Homo sapiens: one gene and its partners. The protein of the gene in region 3 purifies or fractionates together with the protein of the main gene of each other region. This does not show direct contact. Each region holds a gene or a part of one and is shown on either strand. Other genes may lie near its edges.

Region 1 (6,365 bases), on a different chromosome or scaffold from region 3:
TTAAAAATGTACAATGATAAAATTAAAATGGTTAAAAGTGGTTGAAAATTGTTAAAGCGGTAAATTTTATGTTATGTATATTTTACCCCGACAATAGAAAAGAGATATCTTTTGAAAATGTACCATGGTTTTCCATTATTGATAGGAAGATATCAAAACTCGATCTGGCATTCAAGACCCTCATTTTGACTTCATCCCATTTGCCTAATTTGATTTTCTATTACTGACAATACATCTCAGTTAAGCAATTCTCTTCTCATACAGTCTAGACGTCATCCTCATCATTGCCTTTGCTCAAAACCCAGCTTAAGACTCATGAAGAGAACTTTTCAAGCTACTCTAGCTTTTATTCTGAGCTCTCCCTTCTCAGAAATATGATGTAAGTAGCACAGAGCTCAGCATTCCACTGCTCTCTAAGGCTTTAAGATTGTTAGTCATGTACCCACAGCTAGATTATAAGATCTTCAAAGGCAATGAACAGCATCATAGACCTTTTTATGTCTTCTAAAGCAGCCCAAGGAGCTTCTGAGCACAAGGAGAGTATCAGTTGTTGATGAATTCAACGCTGGCTTAATGACAAAATGTCCAACACTTCAAGTATTTTCCTTTAGAAACTGTACATCCTAATCAAGAACATGTGCAAGAATGATAACCTATTTTTCTTTGAAGCAACTCAATTCTGCGTTATATAATAAAAATTTAGCCTAAAAATATAACTACCCCTAAGTGAGAGGCAAACATCTAATGCAATTAAACTAAGTCCACATTATCAGCTGAACCTTAAGAATTCATTACTCAGATACTTTCCACATGAGTTCTATGGTCCAGATCATGTCGTTTCTTTACTCAGACATTCAGTGCCTTCTTGTCTAGAAATTACGCACGTCATTTTCAGTCAGGCATGCAGGCCTTCCATGTCATGTCCTTGCAAGGCCTCTCCCCATTCACTCCTTTAACCAGTGCCAATTGGCATGAAGAACTTCCTTACTTCTGGGAGTTTGGGAGCTTTCTTTCTGTTCCCTCCACAAGGAATTCCCTGTCATGTTACCCTTTTCCATTATCTGAACTGCTTAAAATCCTGACCTGTTTTCAAATGCCACATCGTTTACTCAGTTTTTCTGTTCTCTGCAACTGGACACAGTTTTCCATTTCTGGGCCTCTTCACACCATTTTATCTGCATTTCCCTTCTTTCTTTCTTTCTTTTTTTTTTTTTTTGAGAAGGAGTCTCGCTCTGTCTCCCAGGCTGGAGTGCAGTGGGGCGATCTTGGCTCACTGCAAGCTCCACCTCCCGGGTTCACGCCATTCTCCTGCCTCAGCCTCCCGAGTAGCTAGGACTCCAGGCGCCTGCCACCACGCCCGGCTTATTTTTTGTATTTTTAGTAGAGAGGGGTTTCACAGTGTTAGCCAGGATGGTCTCGATCTCCTGACCTCGTGATGCCTGCCTCGGCCTCCCAAAGTGCTGGGATTACAGGTGTGAGCCACGGCGCCTGGCCCCTCTACACCCCGGCCTTTTTTTTAATTTTTATTTTTAGAGACAGGGTCTCACTCTGTCACCCAGGCTGGAGTGGAGTGGTGTGATCATGGCTCACTGCAGCCTTGAACTCTTGGCCTCAAGCAATCCTCCCACCTCAGTCTCCTGAGTAGCTAGGACTACATGTGGATGCTACCATGATTGGCAATTTTTTTTTTTTTGGTCTCGCTATGTTGCCCAGGCTGCTCTCAAACTACTGGGGTCAAGAGATCTTACCATTTTGGCCTCCCAAAGTGCTGGGGTCACAGGCTTGAGCCACCATATCCAGCCCTCAAATGCTGATGAGCACATTTAGTTCTTTGGAATGCTGCTTTCTGCCTCCCCAGATTTTAACTTCTTTGAGGACACGAACTAAGTCATATTTTTCTGTTTTATATGACTCTTCATGCCCTGTTTTATACATAGTATTTGCTCAACAAATATTTGTTGAATGAATCAACTTAATACAATGAAAGGCAGCTGTCATTTTCTCAATTGCCCTTTCCTGTAACTTAACCACAGTATTTGCTCCAGGCTGGGATCTGGAAACCAAGAATATACTCAGTCGGGATTAAAAAAAGATTTACAAAAACAATTTTACTAAGGGACTATGAAACTGTAGTGTTAAAAATAGAGTGCCATTTTTTGGCCACGGTGTTCATACCTGCCTGATTCCAAACAAGCTTTTAGAAAGGCAATGTTTAGCTGGTAATGGGGACCAGATGTTACCATTTGGAGGCAAACATAATTAACTTGAATACTGTAAGGAGAGCAGAACCGTCACCAGATTAATGCCCTTTCTCTAATGCAGACTCGGCTGGGGCACAGTTTCTGTATTCATAGACTTAGTGATGCCCTGTCCCCATTTAGCCAACATATCCATGGTGCAAAGTGAGACTGTTATTCCTTCCATATAGCTGCCTCATTAAAAAAAAAAAAATGAAGAGGCAACTTGATTTACCTTTGACTGAAAACTATGTGACTCACTTTTAACAATAATTTGCAGAAAAATTACATTAACAATTAATTCAAGGTTTGAATGAGATGCTAGCGTTTAACTCTGTCCCTTCATAGCAGGCTGGTACAGGTCAGCCCGGTGCAGGTCAAACCCTTTGGAAATAGTGTTGCCAGATTTAGCAAATAAACAACAAAACAAGAAACAAGATGCCCAGTGAAATTAGAATTCAGAGAAATAATGAATAATTTTTTAGTACACATATGTCTCAAATATTGCATGGGACATACTTATTCTGAAAAATTATGTCTTGTTTGTCTGCGTCAAATTTAACTGGACATTTTGTATTTCACTTGGCAGCCTTGTTTGGAAAGCTTAAGACCACTTCAGGATGGAAGGGAGAAATGAGTTTTGTAATGGAGGATTGAGGTCGTTATTTTCAGTGATATTATTTTACAGTAAATCTCTGTACTCAGCTTTAATGGAAAAACTGAGGTATACTGGTAAATCAAATATCCAGTTAACCAATTTCCAACGAATGAGAAAGTAATAACTGCATTCGATGGGAGACCCTGAATGAGCATAATTTAATCTCTCCTTGATGACTCAGAAAGTACCTCTGGATATTATGGTGTCTGAGATCATCACTGTGAATTCTGATTGACTTAGGAGCACATGAATATGTGTTGAAGCGCTGGGTAACAGACTTCTGGTTAATAACAGAAGATAGCAGAGTTCAGAGTGTGTTAAGCAGCCATTGCCCAACGTGATTTCCATCTCTGCCAAAATGATGAAGCCTACTTTGTCAAAATAATGAAAATGCCCTTCATCAATCACCTATAAAGCAGAATGGTTTGTTCCAATCTTATTTTCTTTATATCTCTATATGGTGACAAACTCTGAATTTTCCAGGATTACTATATTTCTTTTTTCTTTCTTTTTTTTTTTTTTGAGATGGAATCTTGCTCTGTTGCCCAGGCTGGAGTGCAGTGGCCAGTGGCACAATCTCGGCTCACTGCAAGCTCTGCCTCCTGGGTTCACGCCATTCTCCTGCCTCAGCCTTCTGAGTAGCTGGGACTACAAGTGCATGCCACCACACCTGGGTAATTTTTTGTATTTTTAGTAGAGATGGGGTTTCACTGTGTTAGCCAGGATGGTCTCAATCTCCTGACCTCGTGATCCACCTGCCTCGGCCTCCCAAAGTGCTGGGATTACAGGAGTGAGCCACTGCGCCCAGTCCAGGATTACTATATTTCTAAAAAATAATTTCTGAATCAAAAAATTAGGGTAAAACTTGGGGCTTTAGTGGCTTTGGAAGCCAAGTGATGTGTTCAAGCAGTAACCTTTCATTAGGTAGGCTTAAACAAAATCCAGATTGAATTGTGACTACTCAGCAGGGTGAAAATTTGAGGTCCAGCCGCTTGTTTCTCAGAAGGCGTGCATAAAACTGCACTTCCTTCATTCAAAAGTAACCACCAAGCATTTGTTATGTTCCAGGCATACAGGACACAACAGAAAATGAGGCAAACAGGTCCCCTGCTCTCCTGGACCATCTAGTCCAGCAGGAATACTGTAGTCCTCCTTTCATTAATCTCTACTCAAGGGGACCTTTGATTTTCATTTCAAGAAAATGAAAATTATCTGCTTCTGATAATCAAGAAGAAAAACTTGAAATTACTGTCTTATTAGAGGCTCTGCTTGCTGGGGCATATGCTAGGTTCAATATATTGAGTGCCATGTACTATTTTAGTCTAACGGGTACCATTTAGTGAGCACTTAGTTTAAGCCAGGGGTGTTCCAAATTTCCTCTCATTGACTCCTCATTATAGTTGCATTAAGGTGATCCTCACAGACCAGAAAACGGAGATCAGAGTGAGTCTCAATGTCTTATCCATGGTCCGTCATGCATACACTAAGTGGACAGTCCACAGTCAAGCCTGGATATGTCTGCCTGCCTTCTGTCCATGTGACTATCGTAACGTGTTAGCCTCTCCAAAAACCTGCTTCTGGCAATTATTTGGAGACTAGAGACATTTTACTAGAGAGAAAATATTTAAAAGTATAGTGGAGACCATGATTAAGAGACTAGCACTAGGAACTGAAAGGAAGCACCTTATTTGAAAAATAGCTACTTAATTATGTATGAAAATATTAGGATATGCTATTTTAGACATCTAAGTTTACATAACTAGATCATTTAACTATTTTTAAAAATTGAACAAATTATTTACCTTCTTTGCTCACATTCCTAGCATCACCTCTCAGGGAAATCCTTGTGAAAATTAAAAAGGACAGTTTAGGTATAAAAAAAATTGTATTCAACTAAAAGGATGTGACATAAATCTCTAAGAGCCTGGAAATTCAGAATTTTGACTAACATGTTTGGAGTCTTTATGAAGTTTACCTCATTTTTTTTAAATACAATGACATGAGATAAGGTTGAAGAAATGGGCCAGAAATTTCCACCCAAACCTCAAATGGCCTTGTTTCTACAAATTTATGAATAACAGCACAAATCTGTAATGCTCTGAAAATGACCTAGAACTTTCTGTCATCTAACTGCTGATCAAAAATAAAGCCAAGGTTATATCTAACTTTTCAATGTCCTTTCTTCTTTCAAACCCTTCTCCACCCAATTCCTGCCTCTAAGGCCTTGAACTTTCTAAATCTTAGGTCCTAAAATAATAAACAAGTCTGTCTGTGGGATGGAAATAAATAAACTTTTCATTAAAAAATCAGATGTTGGTTTTTACTTTCCAAGCTGAACTCTACTATAAACAAGTATAGTTTTTCCTGTTCATTAGCTCTTCTCAAAATTGCTTGTAATTTCATGGAATATTGCCAAAGTGATTTTTTTTCCTTCCAAAGTCGGTATCATTCTCCTCTAAAAATAATTAAACTAAAGAGGATAAACAGAAAAATGGAATAAAAAATTAAATACCCCAAATACATATATAACATAATATTAAAGGTAGTTCAAAGACTTTTAGACATTGCTTGCTTTTAATTACTTTTTAGTGAGTGGGTCAACTGATTCTGTCTTTGAACTTCCAAGCTTACTATAAAGATCACATTGTACAGGTTTTTTGTTGGTGGTGGTTGTTTCAATGAAAGTTTGGCAATGTATTTACTAAAATGGAAAGGAATTCTAATATGACTGCTATATACTGCAGAATATAGCATAGTCATGCAAGAAAACAAATGGACAGGCTGGGCGCGGTGGCTCACGCCTGTAATCCCAGCACTTTGGGGAGGCTGAGGCATGTGGATCACCTGAGGTCAGGAGTTCAAGACCAGCCTGGCCAACATGGTGAAAACCTATCTCTACTAAAAATACAAAAAATTAGCCAGGTGTGGTGGTGCACTCCTGTAGTAGTACCAGCTACTCAGGAGGCTGAAGCAGGAGAATCGCTGGAACCTGGGAGGTGGAGGTTGCCATGAGCCAAAATCATGTCACTGCACTCCAACCTGGGTGACAGAGCAAGGCTCAGTCTCAAAAAAAAAAAAAAAAAAAAAAAGAAAAACAAATAAAAAGATAAAGCTGGCCAGGGGCAGTAGCTCACACCTGTAATCCCAGTACTTTGGGAGGCCGAGGTGGGAGGATAGCTTGAGTCCAGGAGTTCGAGACCAGCCCAAGCAACATAGGGGTTACAATTAGTTGTCTACACTGGTGCCCTCATGTTGTCCCACATGTATTCAAGAGGCTGAAGTAGGAGGATCACTTGAACCTGGAAGGTTGAGGGTGCAGTGAGCTATGATCATGCCACTGCACTGCAGCCTGAGTGACAGAGCAAGACCCTGTCTCAAAATAAAGAAACAAAGAAATAAATAAAACTGCTGGAGAATCTTTCATGCAACAGTTACTTATTGTAAATCTACTAAGTAGTAGTCAGTATCCA
Region 2 (6,365 bases), on a different chromosome or scaffold from region 3:
AAAATGTCTGTTTATCTTCACTGAAAAGAAAAATATTTGGTACATCCAACCAAACTATGATGCAGCCCTTACATTCCTTAAATTTATATCATAGGGATCTCATTAGTTAAGTTAGGTTTTCACAGAAAAGATAAGATAGTGTAAGATTTTTGAAACACAAAAGAATGCATAACTCATTATAAATGCAGAATATGTGTGACATTTATTTTATACTATATGGATGTTAAGTCAGCCTTCATAATATCAATCCCAAACTGCACATCCTAGAAAGATACAGCATATCATCCAAGATCTCAGACCAAACAAGCAAAGGAAAGAAACATTGTCCTGAAAAGAGTCTGAAGCAATGTCTTTATTTGCACATGAGTATGGGAATTGTTTTTTATGAAATACTAGTAAGAAAAAAAGGTTCCTATGTGCAAAAAACTCCAGAGCCCTTGGCAAAAAATGCTTTCCTATGCATTCTTGGGAAAATCTCCTACTCTGCTGTAGATAACTTATCTCTCCACAGAAATTTCTCCATAATTCACCCCCAAATCTTCCTCGATTTCAAGAATTTTAGGTTTTCTTCTCAAACATAGGAAGACTTTTTATAAGTCTCAATGGCCAACAGTGAACACAGATTTACCTTGGAAACAAAGATCAGACCCAAACTAACTGGGCAAAAAAGAGGTAACACGGCCCAAGCTCCAGAATCAATGAGTCTTATTTCTCAGAGAAAGCCTCAGGAGAGAAGAATTGTGTGTATTCCTCTTGGCAAACAGCCTTTAGAGCAAGCCCTTTGTTGTACTCAATTCTTCTTTGAGCCTATTGTCTTTTATAACTGGTAAAGAGACGTGGGAAATGAATTTTATTTCACCACTTACCTTGAACATAGACATAAATGACCGAGGCCAAGTCAGTTTCCCGGTAGAAGCACTTGTAGGCTCCAGTGTCATTTCCGATCACTTTTGGAATTGTGAGTGTCTTACAGAAGAGGCCATCGCTGCACTCAGTCACCTCCACCCTTTGCTCACTGCCACTCTGATTATTGGGCCAAAGCCAGTCCAAGTCCCTCTGTCCCCTGAAAAATTAATTTCAGGGAGGTATTAATATGAAGTGCCAGACTGTGAGGCTATTTCTAAGAAAAGAGAAAATTTGGTTTTGAAACTTAAATAAACTCTTCAACAGACACAGTCAGTCTTCTACCGGCCAGGCATGGTGGCTCATGCCTATAATCCCAGCACTTTGGGAGGCCAAGGCGGATGGATCACCTGAGGCCAGGAGTTCGAGACCAGGCTGGGCAACATGGTAAAACCCTGTCTCTACTAAAAATACAAAAATGAGCCAGGTGTGGTGGCGCATGCCTGTAATCCCAGCTACTCAGGAGGCTGAGGCATGAGAATTGCTTGAACCCGGGAGGTGGAGGTTGCAGTGAGCCAAAATCACACCACTGCACTTCAGCCTGGGCAAGAGGGCAACCCTGCCTCAAAAAAAAAAAAACAAAGTCTTCTACCAACAAGTCAGATTGACATATGATGAAAAGTTATAAACTCAGCTTCAGAAGTCACTTATAAAGATTCCTGAGTTTTCCATTAATTAATGCATTCTTTCTTTCAACAAATATCTATTAAGCATCTACTATGTGCCAAACTTGTTAAGGACTAGAGAAAGAGCAGTGAACAAATCAGACAAAAATCAATGCCTTTATGGAACCTCAGTCTAACTGGAGAAAACAGGCAATTAAAAAGTAAGGAAAGTTTATTGTATAAAAGATAGTGTTTAGTACTATGGAGAAAAATATAGAAGATACAAAGAAAAGAGTAAAGAATTTTGCAGGAGGTGGTCTTGATAAAGCTAGCCATAGGAACATCATGAAGAGCAGTATTACAGGAGCAAAAACAGCACATGGAAAGGCCCTGGAGCAGGTGCATATCTGGAGTATTAAGGGAACAGCCAGGAAACCAGAGCAGCCAGGTAAGAGTGAGCAAAGGGGAGTAAGAAGTGAGGTTAGGAAGGAAGGAGGTGCAAGTAAGAGTCCCTCAGGACCTTGTAAGGACCTCGCATTAAAACATAGATGGCTTGTACTGCAGCATTTCTCTACAAGGCCCCAAGGAAGATAAGAAGATAGTCAACATCAAGAAGAATGTAACATTATTGGCCCTTCATTCAAAGAACTTAAAATTTCCAGGAAGTTGCAGCTAAATCAATGAAGTTACTTTTAACACACTCCATGGTTTTTTTCAGAACATAAGAAATGTTTATGCAGAGTTTTAAAAAGGGAGCATGGGATCCTTGGGGATTTCAAATAACCTTGTTATCGAGGGTCGGTAAAAGGAAAATCTAATGGGAAATGTGTCTTAAACAAGTAAAGCTAGAGAAACAGCACCTGCTACTGTGTTTTTTCCCAAGGGCTGGGTATTGGTAAGGGGCTAGGGTATTCTTTATACTGCAGTCTAAAATAGATGTATGTCATTCGGTTTAATGCTTAGTATTCAACAAGTATGAAGCAATGGCAATAACCTACCCAAGGTCCTTTGTGGACCCCCAGCACTCTTCCAGGAGGGTAACATCACCTCCACTTGTCACAGTCTCTACCAAAAACACACAGGTCCTAAGAAGGCTCCATGCCTTTCGTGTGTGATCACTATGTTAAACCCAAGGGTCTTCTATCTTTCGTCCTGGGGTAAGGGTTGAAAGGCAAAATTTAAAGGCCTCTTCTTCTTGACAAAGAAGTCTACTTCTCCAGTTATCAAAAATCAATAGCATGACTTCTTGCTAGCAAGTGGGGAAAGATGCATTCCAGAATATCAAGGCAGGGCCCGAAGTCCATTATTTATGTAGATCATGCGCTCAGTAATATTACCCACTAAATATTAAATTGCTATTAAATATTACTGCCTAAGTAATTATAGTAATAAATTTCTTATAAAGCAAAGTTTTTGGAAAGGGATAATAAGTGTTCAAGAATCATACCAAGCATAATAAATATAGTCCCAAATTTTTTCAACTCTATTCCTTAAATGTATGCCCTCAACTTCATTTATTCATTCATATTTATTGAGCGTATGTCTACTATACGCCAGGTGGCTGTACTGGTTATTGGAATGTGGGTGTGGGTGTGTATTTGTGTGCGTGTGTGTGTGTGTGTGTGTATGCATGTTGGCAGAGAATAGTATAAAAACACCAGCAAAATTGTACAGAATTTTTGAGAGAAAATTCTTCTCATTTTCCATTATTACATCAGTTCTTAGAAACCTCACCACTTATGAACAATTACTACAAGCTCTATTATAATTCTGCTCTACTGGAAATTATTTCCACTCAATAAACAATCAGTTACTTAACACAAGAAATCTAGATCTAGAATGAATCCTTACCTGCAAGTAATTTGAAGAGTTGTATTAGCCTTAATTGTAAGTATGTCTTTTTGTATGCTGAGCCTGGGCAGATCAAGAGAAACACTAGGCAAACCTAGAAACAAATTAAATAAATGAATGTAGTTGCCACTGAGTTAGACCTAATAGGAAACACCTTCCATAAACAATGCATACTCTATACTTTAAAAGGCCTCTTCAGCAATTCATTGTATAAAACTGGGAATTTACTTTTCACCATTCTCAGTAAAAGTTCACAAGCTGTGTCATAACAGGAAGAATGGGCAGATGGTCATAAACCAACACAACAGTTCTGCAATTCATGGAGCTAGGGTGGAGTTCCTGTTTTCCTGCATTGCCAACTTCAAGGTCTTACAAAAGGATACGGGACATTGAAACCAAATGAACCTTCATCTGATGATCTCACTCCCTTGGGAAAGGACCCACTGACATTTCTTATAGAACATAGGATGTACACATTTGACTAAATTGCTGATTAACGAATCCCACTTAGACGGATTTTTATATAGTTCATCTACGTACCCTGAAGGGAGTGAGAGAATCTATGACCTTGTCTCATTTTCCTTTATCAATTTTCTAGTGCGCTTCCCCTGGTAACCAAACTGCCACAGCTGAAATAATGGCTCATAAAGACTGTACATTAAAAGCAAGGGAGAGAAACTGAGGAAGAGAAAACATTCCCCAATTCCACACATACATGCATATTAATATACTTTTATGTATGTGTGGAATTTTCCCAATTTTACACATATGTGCAAATTAATATACTTTTCTGTCTACTGTAATTCATTAGCATTACCCTTTTTTTAAAAAGTATATGAATATTTTCGTGAAAAATTTTCCCAGTTTCACACATACATGCAAACTAATGTACTTTTCTCTCTATTGTAATTCATTAGCATTACCCTTTTTTAAAAACGTATATAAATTTTTTTAAGTGCAATGCTAATGAATTACAATTGGGAGATCTGAACTTATTCATCAAAGCCCTGAACTCATCCTGACATCAAGCTTCAGACATAAGAAACTTGTCTTTACCTATAAGGGATAAGAACCAGAAAAGTACCATGGCATAGATTCCTCACCATGGGTCACTCTACAGCAAGATAACTGAATTCTCTGTCAACTAAATGTGAAGAGCTATGAGGTGTTGAAAAAGCATGAGAGAAAGAAAAATTGTCCACTATGCTAGGGTCTTAATAAATATCAAGACCTAGAAAATACCAGCTTTAAAAAAGTAATTGATGTTGGGCAGGCTCCCAAGCTTTCTAAGTCATATCAACTAAGAAAAAATGACTCCCTAGGCCTAAACTGGCATTGACCTTGCTGGGCAAATAAGAGAGTATGAACAAATAGGACGAAGTATGAGACGGAATAAATAGAGAGAGTATAAGTAAATACCCAGTGCAAACATCCAGTGCATTGAATCTGAGGATCCCAATATGAACAAATGCAGGCAAAATGAATAAGTGACTGCACATGTTCTCACACACCACACAGATGTGCAAAATAAGTTACTGACATAACTGGTCAATATCATGGTTTTTAAGTCAATAATATGGTTTTTAAAAAACTGGAAACTAAGTTATATCAATATATCTCAGAAATTAACTGGCATTGGTACTGACTTATGTTTAGAACAGTTTTGTTCTTAAGACTTTAGACTCTGTCAGAATATCCCTGGGTCTACAAATCTGCATTTTAACAAGCATTTCAAATTATCCTACCACAGATGGTCTATGGGCCACTCTTGGACAGTTGCTGGTCTGGGTGGTCATGTTTAATTAATTTGCACAGTACTTTGTGCGTGGAACGGGGGTTACATTTATGTTTTAAATAGAGAATGGGGTCTCGCTATGTTGCCCAGGCACTTCTTGAACTCCTGGACTCAAGCGATCCTCCTGCCTCTGCTTCCCTAAGTGCTGGGATTACAGGAATGAGCCACTGCACCCAGCCTGCACAGTACTTTTTAATATGAAAGAAATAACTGCCCCCAAAACAGGCAAACAAAAAACCAAAATGTTTAAAAGCAAAATGAAACCTGGAGTCCCACTTTGTCTAAGAAAAGGAAAATGAAAACAATTCATTTGGATAACACAGATTTCAAACTTGACTGGGGAACACTAGGTTGAGAAAGATGCTGAAAACATGATGTACAATTCACACTGCCATCCAAATGAGAAAAAAACCATTATTTGGGCACATTCTTGTGAGAAAACAAATGGCAGTAAAAATGATTCTCAATAAACTGTGCCCACTCGGCTACCAAAATCAGAAACTCTTGAAGGTCTCTCATAATTTATTGCCACAGATCACATTCTAGACACACTTTCCTGTGTAACAAATATTTTAAAAAAGAAAAGGTATGTCCTTCATTCATAGGAAGCTGAGACTATGCCATACTATTCTAGAGACACGTTTACAACAAAAATCTATTCAACAAGGCTCTCAATAACTTCAAATTCATATTTGTAGACCAACATAGTTTTTTGTTTTTTGTTTTTGCTCCATTAAATGTCATTCGTTTTCATTGGCAAGCTTGAGCTGGACTCTTCAGAAAGTTCTAAAGAAATAACTGTAAGAGGTACACATGCTACTACTCAATAAAAAGCCCTTCTATGTTCAAATCCCATAACCAATATTAATTAATTTGTGCACTGTTACCCTTCCAGCTCAAAGACGGGAAGGAAAAACAACAGTGCCTCTGTCTCTAGAATTTGATGGCACCAATTACAGCCCAATCCAATTAAGCAAGTAATGCACTCCAAAAGGGCAAGTTCACCATTATATTCAGGGCGACCGGCCTGCCGTTACTACTACGCTAGGAAACACCCCAGGCTTAAAAGCAACTCACTTCTTTGTGGAATACAGAGCAACCACATGTTCCAGACCTTCATTCTCTGCCCAGAAAGGGGGAGAGAGAGGGCTTGTCTGGGACAAATGAGTGTCCATGGTGGACTGGACCCGTTGAACCAAGTCATTATAAAG
Region 3 (6,365 bases):
GATGTCGCAGCTTACTTGGCCTATCTTGACCCGGTACTCGTGACTCTGGAGCCCCAGGCTGTCCTGCTCCTTCTGTGGGTGCAAAGGGGGAGGATGCTCATGGGGAAGTGCTCCCGAGGCCCACAGCTGAGGCTGGCTCGCTTGCCCCCGCCTACCCCGGCCCCTTTGGTGCTCACGTGGATAACGAGGGTGAGAGGCTCCCCGGGGTGGTGCTTGATCCACTTCTCCCTCTTGGCCGTAGAGAACTGTGGGTTGGGGAGGTAGTCCAGGCGGAACCTGCTGCCCCGCTGTGCCTCCTCGGGGTCCAGTAGCTCCTCAGCCACAGCCACCTCGTCTGCGTAGGCCCGCCCATTGATGAAGAAGTCCACTGGCGCTGATGCGTTGCTCAGGGCCCCGGGGGACGGGCAGGTGATGAGGGTGGAGTTGAGAACCTTGCAGAGCTGGTGCAGGAGAGCCAGGGGCCCAGGCCGGGATGCAGGATGGACAGATGGGCATGGAGAAACGGTGGGGAGTGGGGTTTGAGGAGACACAGAGGCAGAGGGAGGAAGAGGGGACAGAGATGCAGTGGGAGGAGGCCTGGTCAGTTAGGGCCCTGGCTGTGCCTGGGCCACCCCCTCCCACCCATCAGGCCCCCGAATGCCTCACCGTGGGCTCCCGGCCAATGTGGTGGACGGCCATGGACACATTCTGCACCATGTGGAAACGCTCACCAGCCACTGTGATGGTCCTGCCGCCACTGCGGGGGACAGCAAAACCTATCAGTGCACCTGCAGCCCCAGAGAGCCTGGGGGAAGGGCGGGGTGCCAGTCTCACCTGACAGGGCTGCGGCGGGGACTGATGGCCGTGATGACCGGGTTCTGCATGTACCAGAAGGTGAGGTTGCCGTGCACGCAGCCCCGACGCTCGAAGCGCACACACACAGGCACCGGAGCCGGCAGGGCCCCCTCAGGCATGGTGCAGGCGATGCTGGTATCTGTGCGCCTGGGGGGAGCAGCAGGTTATCAGCAGGGCCTGCCTTCTGCTGCTCACCCACCGCCAATGCCCCTGAGACCTGGGGCACAAGTCCACGCACTTGGCCTGGGGTTCAAGGCCTCCTTGACTGGTCCCAACTCATCTTCTGCCCAGTTAGTGCCCAGCTGTTTCCTTACACTTCCAAATTCCGCCCCATCCCACCTCCTCCAGGAAGCCTTCCCAGGTCTTCTCTCCCGCCTCCAACCCTGGTGAAGTCTCTCTCCCCAGATCCCTGAAGGCACTGACTTTTCTCCCAATCCTAGCCCCACTGGATGTTCCTACTTCCCGTGGGTATGTCTGCCCTTCCCTTGAGGTCTATGTTGTGCTCCTCTTGGTGTCCCAGCAATGCCCATTAGTGGGGTCTGGTACACAATAAGTGCATAATAAAGACAAAGGTGTTTCGCCAACAGACTCCAACCACACCCCTGCCACTCACCACACCCCTGGGCCAGCCAGAAGATCTGTGTGTGTGCAATCAACACCATTCTCATTACAGCTATCACTTATGGAGCAACTACTGTATACCTGGCACAAAGCCCTTCTTCCAATTACTGGTACTATTCTTACCAGCTGAGGAAACTGAGGCTCAGAGAGGAGAAGGGGCTTGGCTTAGGGGACACAGCCAATGAAGACCCAAGAGAGGCTTGGCTCAAGGATGTCACCTCCAGCCCGCCAGCCCCCAAGCCCATTGATTTCTCTGGGCTGGAAGGGATGGGCCAGGCCCAGAGGCTTACATCAGCTCCGTGCAGGGGTCTGTGTCGTTCACCAGGACCTGGAGCTCGGAGCCTACATGGAGGTCATTCCCATGGATGGTGATCCTGGTGCCCCCGGCCTTGGGGCCCATGGTAGGCTCCAGGGAGTGGACCAGGGGCAGCTGTGGGAGGAAGGCAGGCGTTTGGGCCTCGGGCCAGCCCCCGGGAGTGTGCGTGCTGGGCGGGCCGGACAGTGGGCTGCAGCCCCCCCTTACCACGTAGGAGAAGCGGTCCCGGGACTTGCCCTCCTTAGAGGCGTTCACGGTCACCACACCTGAGAGTGGTCCTGGGGCTGGCCCTGTGACACACACGATCCTGAGGGGAGGTGCTGTGGTCAGCCAGCGGTCCTTGGCCCCCACGGCCACCCTAGAGCCAGGCTCAGGGATCGCCCCATTCCACGCCATGCCACACTTCCAATGCCTTCTATGTATAATTTACCCCATCAGTTTCCCACAGTTCTGCAACTATAAGACACGGGGGTGGGACAAAAGGGTCTCTGATCATGAGAACGTCTGCTGGGCTGGTAGATGACGGCTCTTCCACACGCCTGATGCACGGCCTCCCAAAAGGAAAGCCAGTTCAGTCTCTGCTCACGCGTATTTCCTACGGCCCCTCTGGGCCAGTCACAGATCTCTAAACCATGCCAGTAGCCCCAGCCTTTTTAATTGCAAATGATTTTCCTCAGAGCAAGGCTTAGGTGGAAGAAGGGCTGTGCTAGGGCAGCCTGTGAGGGCTTCCCAGAGGAGTGGGCATCAGAGCCAGAGCTGGAGGGATAAAGCAGATGCCCCAAGCAGAAACGGCAGGATGTGTGGTGGGAATGGCTTCGGCACAGGCCTGGAGGCCACGAAGCAACAGTCTTCCAGAAAGCAGCAGAGTGAGGACAGAGGATGGGGAGGGAGGAGTGAGGAGGACAGAGCAGAGGCTGGCACTGCTGGAGAAGGTAGGTGGGGGCACCGTGGCTACTCACTCCTCCGACACCGTGTATCTGTCAGGCAGTGGCTCACAGGCCACACCACCAATCCACACGCCGTGGGCCACGTCACTGAGCCGCCGGCCCAGGTTCCTTCCTCGGATGGTCAGCAGGGTCCCACCGTCCAACGGGCCACTCAGGGGCTCAATCTGCCAGGTGACCCGAGAGAGGGGCGAATGGGATCTGAGGCTGCAGGCCAGCAGGCTTCTGCCCACAGTCACAGGCACCCAGCAGGGCACAGCCGTGCAGACCCACTGCTTAGAGGAAGGTCTGGAGGCTCAGGTGGGGCTGGGACTGTGGCCACTTGGCAGGTCACTGTGCTGGCAAGGAGGATGTGGGTGTGCATTACTGAGCCCACGTGGGCCTGGGGACGCTACTTAGGGGGTCTCCTGGAGGATGCTGAGGTCAGCTTCCAGGAGCAATGTTTGGCCATGTCATTGGTGGCTTTAGTGATCATGGTATCCCCTGAAACTAACAACATTCAGCCCTCGGTGTCTCCTCCACGCCACACTTCCAATGCCTTCTATAATTTATTCATTTCCTTATTTATTACTGTCCACCTCCCCCACTGAAACATCAGCTCTGTGAGGCAGAGCACTTCCTTTTGTTCACAGGTGATACTGCACCCATGTGTCGGTGTATGTGCCGTTTGGGTCCCCAAGAAGTGGGACCCTCGAGGGCACTGCGCATGCGCCGTGCCGGAGTGCGGGTGCCACGTGCCTCCACTGGGCATGCTTACCGCGTGGATCTCGGGGGCGGGGCAGGTGCCAGCCATGGGCTGCAGAGGCCCCCGCAGGCGGCAGCCATCACTCCACATGCACAGGTGACCCAGGTCTTCGCGGCCCAGGCACTGGGAACAGTCGGGGCTGCCCATGGCACAGTTATAGACCATGACTGGGGAGACACGGGGCAGCTCGGTCAGCCCCGCTCTGCGGTGCATGCCCCAACACCGCTGTGCCCTCCACACACAACAACTGTCAAGAGGTCTGCGCCCCATCATTGTGGTGCCCCACCCAGAGGAAGTCCTGATTCTGGGGGTCAGGATCCCCTGAGGTTCTTAGCCCCTTCCCCAAACCCCTGGGGCCTGTGCTGAGCACAGTGCAGCCCCTGCTTCATTGATTTCCTTCCCCTCACAGAGACTCCAGCTGGGAGCCTCAGGTCAGCCTCACTTTACAGAGAAGAGGCTGACGCTCAGACAGGAGGGACTCGCCTGAGCTCACGAGGCCTGTGGGTGGTAAAGCCAGATCCCACCCAGACCTCAGTGGGTCTGATCAACCCCGGCGGGGCCCTAGGATGCTGGGGATCCCTGAGTAATGTGGACTATGAGTACTTTGGGGCTTCAAACCCTCCAAGTAGCCCAAAGAGGAGGGCAGGGAGGGTTCTCCAGGACCTTGGGTATGCAGGGCCGTTCTGGGACCTTCATGGTGGGAATCTGGAGGGCACCACGTCCACCAGGGATGCCTGAGACTCCCCATGAACAGAGGAGCCCCTGGAGAGTGGACCCAACACAGACAGTCACAGCAACTGCACAGCTGCCACGCGAGGGGAGCTGACCACACCCCAGATGCCACGCTCAAGGTTGGGCGAGCCCTGGCTCATCAGGTCCTTACAAGCTCTGCAGAGGGACTGTGTCCTGTTTCCTATGGGGACGATCAGGCCCAGGAAGGCAGGGGAAACTATGCACGGAGACCCCAAGGCCTGGAGCCTGGCATGGCATGGCAGGGCTGGGATATGAGGCTGTGTGTGTGCTGGAGAACAATGGGGTGGGACATCTGCGGCTTTGGGGCAACCACTGGAATGAGTCGCACAAGGCTGAGCCCCACCCACTGCACTGAGGCCCCGAGGCCATGTGGGGCGGGTGGGGGTGCCCACCTGTCATGGGCTCAGGGCTGTCCAGGAATCGGGCTGGCCGCCCCTTTAGTTGGAGGCTGAGCGGGAACACCTGGCTCTTCCGGGTCGTGTGCAGCTGCAAAAGGGCAGAAAAGAGCATAGGGGGCATGGGCAATGCCTGGGGCTCTGCTGGGGATGGGTGTCATGGAGGCAGATGAAGTTGGGGCTGCTGGGGATGGGGGAACCAGAAGGTAGAGAGAGGCAGGGTGGGGTGAGGGGTACAGCATCTGGACTTAACGCAGGCCCGCCCTCCGCCCATGCTGGAGTCACCCCACTCACCACCACCTGGTCACAGCGTACAACAGACTCATTCACCCACACAGCCTCGAAGATCTCCTCCAGCCCAAAACTACACTCCAGGGCTGCACCCTGTGGGAAACAGGGAGTGGGAGGCGGGTTTGAGGAGAACCAAGCCAGCATGCATTGCCCTCTAACTCCAGCAGGACACCACGGGCTCCTGCTGGGAAAGGTGGGCTTGGTCGAACTGTCAGGCCTTTGCATGGGCTGTCCCGTCCCCCAAAATCCCCTTCCTGGCCATCACGTCCAATGTTTGAGGGAGGCAAGCAGTGCAGGAATGCCAAGAACTTTGGCCTCATGCGCTCAGCACCACTAAAAGCCTCTCCAGCATCCCCAGTGATCTAACCCAGGGGCCTTGTATTCAGCTCCTAAGGCTCCACTCCCAGCGGGGTTCCCCTGCTCTTCGAGCCTTCCCACCTCCCATCCTGCCCTACCAGGCCCTGCTCAGACGTGCCCCAACGCCCAACACGGCCAGACTCTCCTGCCCCGGCCTTTGCCTGAGCCCTCCCCTCGCCTGAACACCTGTCTTCCTTTCTACCACCCAGCAAAGCTCAACACAGCCTTCAGGATCCAGCTTAAAAGCCCCCTGTTCTGAAGCCTTCCCAGATGCTGCCCTCAAATCAAAGGGGTGTGCCTCACTTGATCCTCATTCATTCCCTCAGCAGCAACTATTCAGGTGTCTGCTGGGGCACTACGAAGCTCCTAGAGCTGCCCCCATCCCTGTGTGCCAGGCATCACCCTTAGCCTCTTGCCTGGCTGCTTACCTGTCCCCTCGCCAACCGGGGACGGTCAGGGCTCGGCCGCTCTGACACCACCCCCAAGGGCAGCAGAAAGCAGCTGGAAGAGCCCTGGCCTGGGTTCAAACCCCACCTCTGCATGTCCCAGCTATGTGACCTCATGCAAGTTGACCCCTTCTCTGAGGCTTGGTTTTCCTACCTGGACAATGGGAATAGGGTTGCTGGGAAAACTGGAGATTGTGTACCTCAAGGGGCCGCACACGGTAGGGGCCTAATATGTGCTTGCTATCATTAGTATGCAGGAGGTATCCAATAATGTTTGTGTCATGAGGCTCAGTTCCCCAGGCTCATCTGGCCTTCTCAGGAGCAGCACCAATACATATTTGCTGAGTAAACAGACTCAGGTTTTGTGTATTACGCCAAGCACCCAGCCAGCTGCGTGGCAGAGCTTCCTGTTTATGTCCCTGTGGCTGGCAGATGTGACACCCTGAGGAGAATGCAGGTCAACCTCCCTGCTTCTGGGGTCCCAGCCCGGAAGCTAACACAGGAAAGTGGCTGCTGACGGGGCCAAAAGCCCGTTTTGTCCCCTGCCATGCTGAGCTGGAGATGGGTCCCTCCTCTTAGTCCTCAGCCACCTCAGAACAGCACACCCGGCCCGTCCCAGAGCTCCCCAGGGTGTAGGCTCAGCAAACAGGCCCCCACCGCTGG
Region 4 (6,365 bases), on a different chromosome or scaffold from region 3:
TATTGTATATTTGAAAAATGCTGAGATTAGATTTTGTGTTCTTACCACAAAACAAAGATAAGTAATTGAGGTAAGGTGTATGTTAAACAGCTTGATTTAGCCATTTCACTATGTATATCTATATGTATATCTCTCTCAAAACATCATGTTGCATGCCCTAAATATGTACAATTTTGACTTGTCAATTAAAAAATGAATTTTAAAAAATGGGACTTGTGATGAGTGATTACATTAGTGTAACAATGGCACTCTGCCTCACACTGTCTCTGGAAAGTGTGTAAAATTCAGATGCTGAAGGGGCCAGATGGCTAGGGCAAATGAGTGACACAGGCCATGGGTTTGTACATTTGTTTGCATGTCAAACCCCAGCAGCAATATTCATTTCTACAGAGAAACATGCCCTCCCCCATTTCTGTTAAACACATGATCCTCTCAAGCTATCTTTCATTTTCCTTCTTTTGGTAAGGAGTGTCAGATATAGAGAAACATTTCTCTACTCTAAGAAACACAACAGCACATGCACAACAACGGATACCTTCACTGGGCCTTGGGAGCCAATAAGGGCGCAAAGGACGGTGGGTGCTGTGGTCTGAATGTTTATGTCCCCTCAAAACTCCTTTGTTGATATCCTTACCCCCAAGGTGGTGAGATTAGGAGGTGGGGCCTTTGGAGGTGATTAGGTCACGAGCGTAGAACCCTCTCGAATGGGATTAGTTCTCATAAAAGGTACCCCAGAGAGCTCATTTGCCATGTGAGGTTAGAGTGAGAAGACCATAATCTATGAGGCAGTGGACCCTCACCATACCCCAAATCTGCCGGGGCCTTGATCTTGGACTTCCTAGCCTCCAGAACTGTAAGAAATAAATTTCTGTTGTTTATAAGCCACCCAGTCTATGCTATTTTGTGACAGCAGCCTGAATGGACTAAGACAGTGGGAAACAGGGAAGGCAGGTCTCTTCTAAGGGTCAGCCTCTTTTCTGCCGAGACAGCTACCACACAGAACTTGGTATGACGAGTACCAAAGAACATCCACATGTTTCAAGAGAAGCTGGAAATCTGGACCAATACGTGAAGTTTCCAGATTTTAAAGGTATAAATCATTCATGAGACAAACATGTGACCACTGGCCTACAGAGTGAGGCAAAATGTGAGACTAAACAACAAAATGCAAACAAAATCATTTCCAAAGAAATTATTTTCTCTATTCATCCAAGTAACACTTACTGACCATCTATTTTGAATAAGACATTGCATTTGGCAGTAAGAAAAGACACAAAACTAAATACGACAGGACATCTACCTTCAAAGAGAGCTTTCATACTAGATTAAAATACCAAATTACGTCATATGGGTTGAAAATCCCCGCAGGGCTGAGGCCAGAAGGGAATTACTGAGTAATTCAATTATGGAGATATGAATGCTCTTGTCTACTTTGATCAGCACTCGGGGAAAGACAAGAGATTGTGGAACTGGAATTACTGATGGCCCAAACTCCTATTTTTAACACTGGACTCACAGGAAAGCCAAAAGGACACAGTAAATCAAAGACACACCAAGCAAAATCCTGGTTGTTTGAAAACATTAACAAGATAGCTTCCAAACTGGCCTTACAGGAATATAAAACAGGGATATTATGTATTTTTAAAAATATTCTAAAAAAATAATTAAATGAAAACTAGATCAACAGTTCTCAAAGTGTGATCTCAGGACCCCTGGGGAGCCCGAAGACCTTCTTAGGAGGCGCCCACAAGGTCAAAACTATTTTAATACTAAGGTATCATTTGCGTTTTTAATTCTATTATTTCTCTGAGTGTAGAGTGGAGTCTTCCAGAGGTTACGTGATATATAATGATGTCATATTGGAATATGTGCTTGTGTAGTCTTCTGTTTTAAACATTTCTCAAAAATACATATCAGTTTCAATTTCTAATATTGTAACTATCAATAGGTATGGAAACATAAGTTCTTTGGGGTCCTCAATAATTTTTAAGAATATGAGGGGCCCAGGAGTTTAAATTGGATTATAAAATCTGCAAGGGTAGAGACTGCCTCTTGTTTAGTGTTATATCCATAGCTCTTAGCACACTGCCTTGCAAATGGTACACACTCAGTAAATATTTGTCAAATGAAAGAATGACTGCCAAAGCATGTACCCAAAAGTGCATTTAGATATAGAAAGCAAACACCTAAAGTGGTCTTTATTTTTCCTTGGTTGTTTTTTCCAGTTACCAGCTTGGATTAAAAATGGTCCCTTCCTTAGTGTATAGTGTATAGATAGTGCATATCTTGATGATATGGCCAGGAATGTCTAGTAACTTGGCCAACATCCTATGTTTTCATCAATGAGCTTATAATTCCACCTCCTGATTCTTCCTGGGAAATAAGCAAATGTCTGGCAGAACAGATGGCCCCTCTGCTGTGGCCTGACAGAATGAAATCTTGGATTTATTTAACAATAAAGCAAAGTAGTTTCCACAGGCAGGAATCTTCCCCTCCTCACCAAATAATATTTCCTTTAATGTAAACTTGCAGATTAATAGTAATTATAAGTAGTAATCTCCTCAGTCAGAATTACCATCTTAAGGAATGAAGACATGGTCTAAAATAATCACTATACAAATATAAACACCTTTTTTAAAAATGCATATTCCCAAAATTGCAGATTACGATCCCACAGCAACCTGCCTCCAGTAATGGATTTTATGATAAGCACTTTAACCTGAGTTCTGTTCCTAATGAGTCTGATTCAGCAAGTCTGGGATGGGGTCTGGTATTTTCTAAATCTTTGTAAGTGATTTAGATGCATCTCCTAGAGTCTAGGGGCTATGCTGACAACTGTTAGCCTACTATATTGTCTTAATCATTAATAAGGAATGCACTCATAGTCAACATGAATTAGTAAGACACTAAAATAAACTTAATATGATTTTGATATCACAAGATCGTGTTTCTAAAAGCCAGGAAAGAATTTGGATAATTTTGCTTAGGAGTTAGAGAATCTTGCAAGGAAATTAACGACACTGCCTCCGTTTACAGTGCTATAGTTTCTTCCTGTGCTGAGCCAATCACATTGCTCCGTTATAAACTTGGAAAAGAGAAACTAGGAGATGAAGCATGTCTATGAGAGGTCAACAGCTGGAAAGTCACACTGAGGCGGGGCTGAGCAAGCCCGGATGAGTACAGAGCCAGGCTGAGTAAACAGAGGAAGCCTGTTGGTGGAGAAAGCAGAGGAAAAAGTGGGAGGCAGAGTGTGCCTGCTTCCTGCTGACTTTCCACTTTCGGTTGTCCTCTCAGGAGGCCTTACTGTGCCGTGGTTCTTGCCCTTTGATTTCTATGAGCTTCCCCTTCCAGATTTACAGAAACAAAAAAAAGAATCCTCTCTTGCCAGAGCTAGTTTGAGTAGGCCTCAACTCCTTAAGAGAGCCAAGAAGCGGGATACATTGTGGTCTGTAAGGACAATGTAGCATGAGAGGTGAGGGATGGCCATAGAATTTATTGTCCAAAGCAGAAATCTTTTGGAGGAAAGGGGGTGTTAGTGATTACACCAGCACAACAGGTACACAGAAACCATGTAGGACTATTCCAGGCAAATGGGATGTATGGTCATCCTTGAGATGGGAAAAGTGGGTTCAGGATCAGAAGGCTAGCTGGCACGCTCTCTCCTTCCCTCTCCATTTGACTTTAGATAAGTCACTTCTATTCCAAGAGCCTCAATTTCCTTGACCGTAAGATAACAGATTTAAGATATCTTTACAGGTTTTTTTCTGATCAAGAAAAATCTCAGACTAAGATAAGTCTTCTTTGAATAGAGGCAACTCAGGAGATGAGGTAGATATGCAAGAAGGAGCCTTTTAAAATGATATATAGCTGAATGCCTTTACATACACATCAATAAAGATGTTTTGCTGATTTGACTTTAAAAAACAAGATCCCATAGTCACCAATCAAAGCAATCTGGTTATCAGTGATTACATTTTACTTCTTTTTTTATTTTTATTTTTATTTTTTTTGAGACAGAGTCTTGCTCTGTCGCCCAGGCTGGAGTTCAAGGGAGCCATCTTGGCTCACTGCAACCTCCGCCTCCCGGATTCAAGCGATTCTCCTGCCTCAGCCTCCCGAGTAGCTGGGACTACAGGCACCTGCCACCATGCCTAGCTAATTTCTGTATTTTTAGTAGAGACAGGGTTTCACCATATTGGCCAGGCTGGTCTCGAACTCCCGACCTTGTGATCCACCCGATTCAGCCTCCCAAAGTGTTAGGATAACAGGCGTGAGCCACCACGCCTGGCCTATATTTTACTTCTTGAGGAATCGGTAGAACAGCTCCAGAGTTTCTATGGCTCCCAAAAGAAACCAGCTGGTACTGACTTGCCCAGAGCCTCAGGTCCAGATGAAGGGGAAGTGTATTTGTCCTGTTCATTGCATCTCTGAGACCTAATGCTACAGTCCTGCCTTGACCTGTGAAGAGGAAGTCAAAGGTGTAAACAGTCTCCCACTGGTTCCCTTGCCATCCCATCCCTTGTTGGCCAGCCCTGACTGTGGCCAGTTCTGCATCCCTATTACTGGGAGACAGTCAACCTGCCAGCACGTCTGCAGAGATTAGGAGCGCAAACTTAATATTCTGAACTGCATAGCTGCTCTTAAAGGTCATGGGATCTCAGAAGTTTGGAGCTAAGAGGAACCATAGCTTGTATAATAAGTTTCAATTCACAGATGACAAATATAGCTAAAGACATAACAACTGTTAACGTTCAGGCATTGTGCGAGGCATTGTGCTGGGTGCTTTATAGATATCATATTATTTCATTCTTGTGACAACTCTGAGTTAAGTATTCTTATCCTTATTGTTCCTATTTTCAAAATGAGGATCCTTAGGATTTGAGGGATTAAATAACTTGCCACTGTGCTTGTTCAGCTTAGTCCAAGAAATCCTTAGGGACAGAAAAAAAATGTTTGATTCAGTTCTGCTGATTCTCAGGACACTCTTCTTTCTATTAAAATGATCACAGGCGAGTGAAGAGGCATTTAATATGTATCTCAGGCACTGTGCTAGGTGTCAAGGCAGTTCACTGGGATACCAGATGAAATGTAACGTAAACTCCTGCCTTTCCAGGCCTAAGGGAGGAAAAGGAACTGCTGGGTCTCTGCAAAGCTCTCTCTTCATGAAGGCCCAAACGCTTGTAAGGAAATGCCTTATTAATGCTCACAATATCCCCTAGGAAGAGGGTGTGGGAAAAAGAGAAGTACTATTATGCCTCTCTTGCAAATGAGAAAATTGAAGCAGAAACAATTACAGGCCTTGCCCAATACGAGGCAGTCACCACTGAGGCCAAAAATGAAACAAAATTGTCTTGGTTCCTTCCACGATATTCACTGGCCAAAATTAAAAGTCTCTCTTCAGTTACCTCTGGTCACTGCAGGGTTCAAGGACAATTATCATTTGAGACAACTTTTTGGATAGGAATTCTCTTACTAAGCTTCCCACACCTACTCATTTGAATTTCATCCCTTTTCCCTCTTCCCTTTTTGACATAGACAAGTCGGGGCATAGACAATCTTCAAATGAAAAAACAAAGAACTGGAAATATCAGAGTAGATTATATTATAACTACATTAGAATCAAGTTATGAATGAATTCTCCCATAGTAATACTAGTGGCAATAAAGATGACTGCCACATATTGATTACCTATTCTGTGCCTGATACTATGCTAAGTGCTTTATACTTGGTCCTACAATAATACACATGCAGAGACAAATCCAGGTTTTGTGGGTCCTGAAGCTTATACAATTTGAAGGGTCCTTCTTAAGAAAAAAGAAAATTTGGGATATAGAATGAGGTACAGGGCTTCGCAAGGGTCTGTGCAAGTGAGAGACCCAAAGCTTAACTTTGCGAGTTTCATGGTAAATGCATCACTGTGCCCAAGTTAGCTAACAGCTCATATCCCCAGTTTTACAAGCAATGAAATTGAGGACCAAGTAAGTTATTTGACGTAAGTCATAAAGCTTATACTGGCAAGGATAGGATTTGAACATATGGAATCTGACTCCAAATCTCACGTATTTTCTTTGTGTGGCTTCTAATAAAAATAAAGTTGCTATCACCTATTAAGCACTAACTATATCCCAGAAAGATCACACCTTAAGGTTATAAGAATTATTTGACAAAGCAGATGTGATCGTTAGTCCTTATTATCCCTATTTACAGATGGGGAAAACATGAATCAAGTAAGATTAAACAGCCCACGGTCACCGAGCTGGGACATAGTGGAAGCTAGGTTTCATGCCCAGGAGTGTAACATCCTCAATCTTTCCCACTGTCCCATGCTACCTACCACCCTACAGGTAATCCAGGAAAAAGCAGAA
Region 5 (6,365 bases), on a different chromosome or scaffold from region 3:
TTGCTTTAAGAACTCTTTGACCCAGTGCTTCTCTATCTCCATTCTCTAGTAAGATTATAATTTTATGGAGTTAGTGATCATAGTATGTTGCACAATTGGTCAAAGGTTCCTGGCTTTTTGTGGCCAGGAATTATTATTAATTAATTTATTAATTAAACTAAGTGGTGACAAAGCATATCTTTAACTTAAGTAACTACAAAAACCTTTTCAGGCCAGTGAGACACATTGACCACAGTTGTGGTAAGTGTTAAGAGACCATGCTTTCACTTTGGATTCCAGGCCAGACTCTTTGTTATTAGCTTGTGACCGTGGGCAAAATATTTAACTTTTTTGGACGTTAGTTTCCACATCTTTAAGAAAAATTATAATGGCACTTATCATAATGAATAAATGAATTTTGAATATGATAATGAATAAAGTGCTTAGCACATTGCCTAAACATATAATGCATACTTAGAAAATGTCACTGTTACTCTATATGTCTAATAATGGTAATAACAATAATGGCCTTCAAAGACCATTGTTGGCATTTTAAAGGGTTTTTTATCTTGTGTTTTAAAAGTTCATTTAAATATACATCCTATAATTTACTAATGCAAAGAACATTTTTGTCTTGGTCCCATTTTCCTTGATACAGGTAGAAAATTGAACTGACTCAGATCAGCATTCCTTACTCTTAGCAGGAAGTCTTGCCCAGGGTGGCATGATCTGGCTGAGTGACTCGCCCAGTTGTGTGCAGTGGGAATCATAGTCAGACTGTTTCTCAGCTACCTGTGACTTGTGTGTTATTAGGACTTGGGGTTACAGTGGAATTGGATGGATTCTTGGTGAAAGGATACTTTCAGGCATCTTTTTTACATTAGCATTGTCAACAGATTGATAAACAGGCTTAAGTCTAAGGCTGCTTTGAAGTACAATACAGAAGAAGGGAAAAAGTACAAAAGAAATCCACTAACAGTTCTAGGGCATAATCGAGTACATAATTACCGCATTTGAGAGGCTGTAACTCCCCAAGTTCACAGATAATGTGATAAGACCATTTGTGATTACCACTTATGGTCAAGAATATGATTAAAACAGAATAATACTTTTACTGCATTTCAGGGATTTACTGATATCCAGTTTTCTCTGGTGATTGAGCCAGTAGTAAAATAAATAAAACCAACTTCCTTTACTTCCCCTCCCTCCCTCCCTTCCTTTTCTTTCTTTCTTTCTTTCTTTTTTTTTTTTTGACGGAGTCTCGCTCTGTCGCCCAGGGCAGAGTACAGTGGCACGATCTTGGCTCACTGCAACCTCCGCCTCCTGGGTTCAAGTGATTCTTCTGTCTCAGCCTCCCGAGTACCTGGGACTACAGGTGAGCACCACCATGCCCAACTAATTTTTGTGTTTATAGTAGAGACGGGGTTTCACCATACTGGCCAGGCTGGTCTTGAACTCCTGACCTCATGATCCTCCCGCCTCAGCCTCCCAAAGTGCTGGAATTACAGGTGTGAACCATCACGCCCGGCCCTCCTTTACTTCTTTGTTTATATTAGCTGGCATTGACTTTGACAGGTGGGCAGGTGGTAGTTTGTGAGACCGAGACATGGCTCCTTGGATACCACTTTATTGGGCAGTGAGCTCAGCTCTTCATGCAGGGGCTTGGGGGCTCCTTTCTGTAATTCTAAAGCTTCTCCTGCATCTGAGAATGACATCTGTTGGGCTTCTTGGGGCCTCTGGTAGATATTTCCTTACAAGGAATGCATGCTGGATCTGAAGAGGTAGTTTAAAATGGCATATTAAAGGCAGAACGTTTAGTCTAAGCCTGTTAATCACTGCATTCCTGTGCTCCCCAGAGTCTGAAAATGTCAGGAATTGAAAGACTAGTATGAATTTGGAGGTCTTGGCCTCTACTTGAGTAAGTATAGTACCTCCATTAATGTTCTTAGTCCATGGTGTGGGGTTATCACCAAAGGCAAATACTGCTATGGATGTAAACAGGAATTTTTCCACTTAGTAACCTCCATTTTCAGCTAGCCCTGTTAACATCCTTGGCTTCTGGACTGTAGGAAAACAGTTCCATTTATTTCATCCTTTCCTCTGGAATGTTCTTAATTTGATGTTGGCAGATCCTGACCTCACTCCCTGCTTACTGCACAGGGGCTGGCTTGGCTTATGCAGCAGGCCTCCCAGGGGACGTTTCCAAGCCAATCAGAATGCCCTCTTTTAGTGTCTCTCTTTATACCTTCGGATACTGTCTGAATCAGTAGAAATGCTGAATGAACCCTAGGTGGGGTGGAAGGGTAAGAGAGAGTATGCTTGCACTCTGATTTTGTTTCCTATGGACCTAACTCCAAGTTTTTAAACTAAGCCTGGATTTTTTTTTTTTTTAACTCTTTCTGCCATTTCCACCTTGTCTTATGGAAGTGTAACCTCAAGCAAATTATGGGCAATTAGAGGTAGGCATCAACTTTAGTTCCTGGGCAGTTCCTAAGAGTGTTGGTTGAGGCCTGGCTTTCACCCTAGTGTTTAGTTTAATTCATCAGGGTACATTTCTCATTCTTCTGAGCTGGCTTCTAGAAGCCAGGCAATTCAACTGTATGGAGCCTGTCAAATACCATAGCTTTTCAGATTTTTCTAGGTAATGGATCTATGGGGTTATGGAGGGCACAGTCCCTCCATTAGCTGGCAGTGAGTTGGGTTGCTGGTATTGTTGGTCCCACTTCTGAGCTGACCCACAAAGTATTAATATCTCACTGTGGTGTGAAGTACAGACTGTCTTGTTCTCCTGAGGGTCTGCATTCAGGAAGAGGCTGCCTAACGCTAAACAACTGGGTTGTTTGTTTGCCATAGGCCCAGGGAAGAATAGGAGGTGGAGAAAGTCTAATCGAACCCAGGATAGAATCCTGTGTGAGAGAGAAATTTGCTACTCTTTCAGTTGAAATTTGAACTCTGAATCCCAAGAGAAGGCACCAGTAGGTCATTTAATACTTCTTGTTGAGGCTTGCAAAAGACACTGCATTTCTAACAAAGCGTTTGCCCATCCAAAAGAGAGATCCTGATTTGGCATATAAAACTACTGCCTCTTCTGGTTATCTTTCATCACTTGCCTGAGTTTAAAAAGGTAATAAATGGTTTGTGTTCTAAGGAAAGAGGCTCTTCCCAAGACCTGAGGCTTTCTCATTCCTACCAGCTGGGCCCATTGCTAAAATGCTTTCCAGTGGGCTTGCTTCTGCCTGGCCAGCACCTGGGCTGCCCCAGCTTGTAATTAGCCTGCCTTTGCTTCATAAGCTTCCCAGGGTGTGGTTCTTCTTCTAAAAGCTTGTATGAATTGCTGTACTGTCTCTTTATAGTTTAAAAATGAATCCTTTTTTGTTCTTTGCAACTCATTTGCTTTTTTCTTTTCTTTTCTTTAAATTACTATTAACACCTGTTGATTCTTTTTTTTTTTTCTGATTGGCCTGTCACTGCATTCCTGCTCCCCCTCCCTCTAGCTGGGTTTGTCAAGTCGCCCATGTCAGAAACTAAGCTCACGGGGGACGCCTTTGAGCTGTACTGTGACGTGGTCGGGAGCCCCACGCCAGAGATCCAGTGGTGGTACGCAGAAGTCAACCGGGCAGAGTCTTTCAGACAGCTGTGGGACGGTGCTCGGAAGCGCCGTGTCACCGTAAACACCGCCTACGGGTCAAACGGCGTGAGTGTGCTGAGAATAACCCGGCTCACCTTGGAGGACTCTGGGACTTACGAGTGCAGGGCCAGCAACGACCCCAAGAGGAATGACTTGAGGCAAAACCCCTCCATAACATGGATTCGAGCCCAGGCCACCATAAGCGTCCTTCAGAGTGAGTCCAGCACCCTACAGTAGTAGTACTGTAGTCATTAGAGGTGGCCCAATGACCCTTCCCTTCTGCATCCTTTCCCTCTTCCCCAGTATGATCACTCACCCCACCCCTTGTCTTCGTTTTTTTTTCAATCCCATGACCCTTCTGGTTGTAGTGTATGAAAACATCTGTGGCAACTTTTTTTCTTCTTTTCTTTGCCGTTCTCTCTGCCTCCCTTATCCCCCAACCCTTCTCTGTGTCTTTCTTCTCAGGAACAAAGAACTTGAGGAAATCCGTGACTGTCCAAAATCATCTGTGTTGGGAAGAGTTGGGGAGGGAGAACTGGGAAGCTTAAATTAAAACTCATAAAACCAGGCAGTCCAAGGAGGGTAGTGTTGAAATGGTTTTCCCTCCCCTTTGATTTTGTAGTAGGTTTCCTGCTATACTTTTGCTGATTTCTTCTCTGGTGCCTTTCTATTTTTGTTTCTCTCCCCAGTCTAACTACTTTTTATTTCTTCTGTTCTTCTGTTTGAAGCTCTCTAAGTAGCTGCCTTCACCTCTATGGTTTTAAGTTTGTGTCTGCCCAGCCTCTTCCTTTAACTGTGACTTGGTGTCATCTTGTTGTGATGGGAATGTTGCCATGGGTGCAGTGTGGTGGTGTGTTTTGGTTGTTGGGTGGCATGTAAGCTTGGATATTTTCATAGTTCCAGCTCTTTTTCTTTTCTAAAACCGTGGCATGTGCTTCTCTGATAACAGCCCTCTACTGCAGCAGTGTACTCCTCACTGGGCCTGCTAATTAGTCTCCTCTTTAAAAGCAGCAGCCTGGGACTTCCTTCTTATGTTTTGCTGTTAGGAGCCAGGTGACACTAAGCTGCAAATTATTATTTTTTTAGCCCATCACACTGTTTGGAAGTCAGAGTTGCAGTTGATTCCTGTTCACGGTTTGACTCTGATGAGTAGCTGTTGGCACAGTGTACCTTATCCCAGAGCATGGGAACTCCAGACATAGTGTGGGGACCACTCACACTGGCCTTTTCTTTGTGTCTTGAAAAAAGAGGAAACTAACTTCCAACCTGGTTTCTCATAGTGATGGGGTGAGCTGACCAGCTGGCTCAGAATCCTCTCCTTGTAGCAGGTATGCGTGAGACATATGACACCGGGACTTTTGTGGCCACTTCTCTCTCTTTCTTGAAAGTGACTTGCTACCTTATGTTGAGAAGCAGAGAGAGGGAGAAGCCACCACAGAACCAACGTTCCTGGCCAAGAAGAGTTCTGGCCCCACATCAAACCTGGTTATAATTGAGGGGACATTCACTTTTGGAAAGATCCTCTGGGTTTTTCACCTTCTCTTTGAGGACACAATGAGAGATCTATAGCCAGTTCCAGCTTAAAGAGCTGATTGATCTAGAGAAAGTAAGAATAGTAAAATCTTACTTTGATGAGGAATTTGGTAATAACATAAAGTAGTAAGACATGGGCCTTGAGTCTATATACTTAGATGGAAAATAGCAAATTAGTGTCTGTTCTTTGTAGCCACTTGAAGATCCTATGGGTAAAAAAAGAGTCCTTTGTAGGGCAGTGGTAGGAGAGGCTGCTGCAGTTGGCACTGTTGAATCAAAGAACCTGCTTCTGGAAAGAGGAAAAGAAAACCTTGTCTATGTGAAAATGGGGAACATTAACCCAGTGATTTTTTTTTTAACAATATTTTTACCCTGCACGCCTCCTTCTCCTGCCCCCTTGCTCCTTTCCTTATAAAAGCAGAATTACCTACATGGCCACAAAGGTCTGTGGAAGTTTATAGGTATGGACTGGGCTGGGCATTTGCACTTATACTTCCAAGAGCCTGACTCATAGCTAGAATGGCCATGCCAAGGGGCTAGAAAAAGATGAGGCATTGGGGTACCTACCTACCAATCCCGAGAATACATAGCATTCCCCAGTTTACTTAGAATTGTCTGCATGTGGTTGAATCAAATCCAAATCCTGGCTAGACTCTCTTCAGACTTCCCCATCAGTCAGTTAACCCAAGTTAGCTGTTTTGGAGAGCCAGGAGGTTGTTGCTGCTGCTGCTGCTTTTTTTTTTTTTTTTTTAAAACACCCTGGATCCAACTCTAATTGGACTGTTTTATGATCTCAGCGTCCCAAAAGACATTGCTCTATGGGGACATCAGGTGTTCTATCTAAGAATGACCTCCTGGTAGTACTTTCCCCAAAGCTCATTGAGTATGTAAGGCAAGAAGAGAAGTGTGCCCAGTTTTTAGGTATCTCTCTGGCCATAGCATGTTCTTTATATATGCATGATGGCTGGGGTAAGGGTCTCCTATCCACTGCTTTTAAATAGACATCAGTGGCAGGTAAACACATTTGAACTTCTCCTAAATGTTCATCTCTCTTGGACTTTGGGCAGCGCTTGGCCACAAAAATAAAAGCCCCACCTTCATCCTGGTGCAGAATGCAGTTGAGGCACCATGGCCAAGGAACTTGGTGTAGCACTGTTTTTCATATACAGCAATCACAGGAGGCAGGTTACCCTACCCCACAACCCTCCTATGGTGCAGAATCATA

Evidence for each region.
Region 1: the proteins of PLXND1 (region 3) and NRP1 purify together in Homo sapiens (affinity purification with western blotting; one study listed by BioGRID). This does not show direct contact.
Region 2: the proteins of PLXND1 (region 3) and KDR purify together in Homo sapiens (affinity purification with western blotting, with the first as the bait; one study listed by BioGRID). This does not show direct contact.
Region 4: the proteins of PLXND1 (region 3) and SCARB2 purify together in Homo sapiens (co-immunoprecipitation; one large-scale study listed by IntAct). This does not show direct contact.
Region 5: the proteins of PLXND1 (region 3) and NPTN purify together in Homo sapiens (co-immunoprecipitation; one large-scale study listed by IntAct). This does not show direct contact.

What each region holds. Positions count from the first base shown.
Region 1 is NC_000010.11:33,214,940-33,221,304, forward strand, and holds part of NRP1 (neuropilin-1 isoform a precursor), read right to left. Parts: intron 1-6,365. UniProt on the Homo sapiens protein: Cell-surface receptor involved in the development of the cardiovascular system, in angiogenesis, in the formation of certain neuronal circuits and in organogenesis outside the nervous system. Mediates the chemorepulsant activity of semaphorins.
Region 2 is NC_000004.12:55,117,738-55,124,102, forward strand, and holds part of KDR (vascular endothelial growth factor receptor 2 precursor), read right to left. Parts: intron 3,454-6,365; coding exon 3,360-3,453; intron 1,064-3,359; coding exon 867-1,063; intron 1-866. UniProt on the Homo sapiens protein: Tyrosine-protein kinase that acts as a cell-surface receptor for VEGFA, VEGFC and VEGFD. Plays an essential role in the regulation of angiogenesis, vascular development, vascular permeability, and embryonic hematopoiesis.
Region 3 is NC_000003.12:129,570,864-129,577,228, forward strand, and holds part of PLXND1 (plexin-D1 precursor), read right to left. Parts: intron 4,993-6,365; coding exon 4,903-4,992; intron 4,700-4,902; coding exon 4,606-4,699; intron 3,628-4,605; coding exon 3,473-3,627; intron 2,883-3,472; coding exon 2,731-2,882; intron 2,323-2,730; coding exon of another isoform or gene 2,202-2,322; intron 2,079-2,201; coding exon 1,979-2,078; intron 1,886-1,978; coding exon 1,746-1,885; intron 982-1,745; coding exon 814-981; intron 737-813; coding exon 646-736; intron 441-645; coding exon 177-440; intron 73-176; coding exon 1-72. UniProt on the Homo sapiens protein: Cell surface receptor for SEMA4A and for class 3 semaphorins, such as SEMA3A, SEMA3C and SEMA3E. Plays an important role in cell-cell signaling, and in regulating the migration of a wide spectrum of cell types.
Region 4 is NC_000004.12:76,205,377-76,211,741, forward strand, and holds part of SCARB2 (lysosome membrane protein 2), read right to left. Parts: intron 1-6,365.
Region 5 is NC_000015.10:73,594,478-73,600,842, reverse strand, and holds part of NPTN (neuroplastin isoform b precursor), read left to right. Parts: intron 1-3,473; coding exon 3,474-3,821; intron 3,822-6,365. UniProt on the Homo sapiens protein: Probable homophilic and heterophilic cell adhesion molecule involved in long term potentiation at hippocampal excitatory synapses through activation of p38MAPK. May also regulate neurite outgrowth by activating the FGFR1 signaling pathway.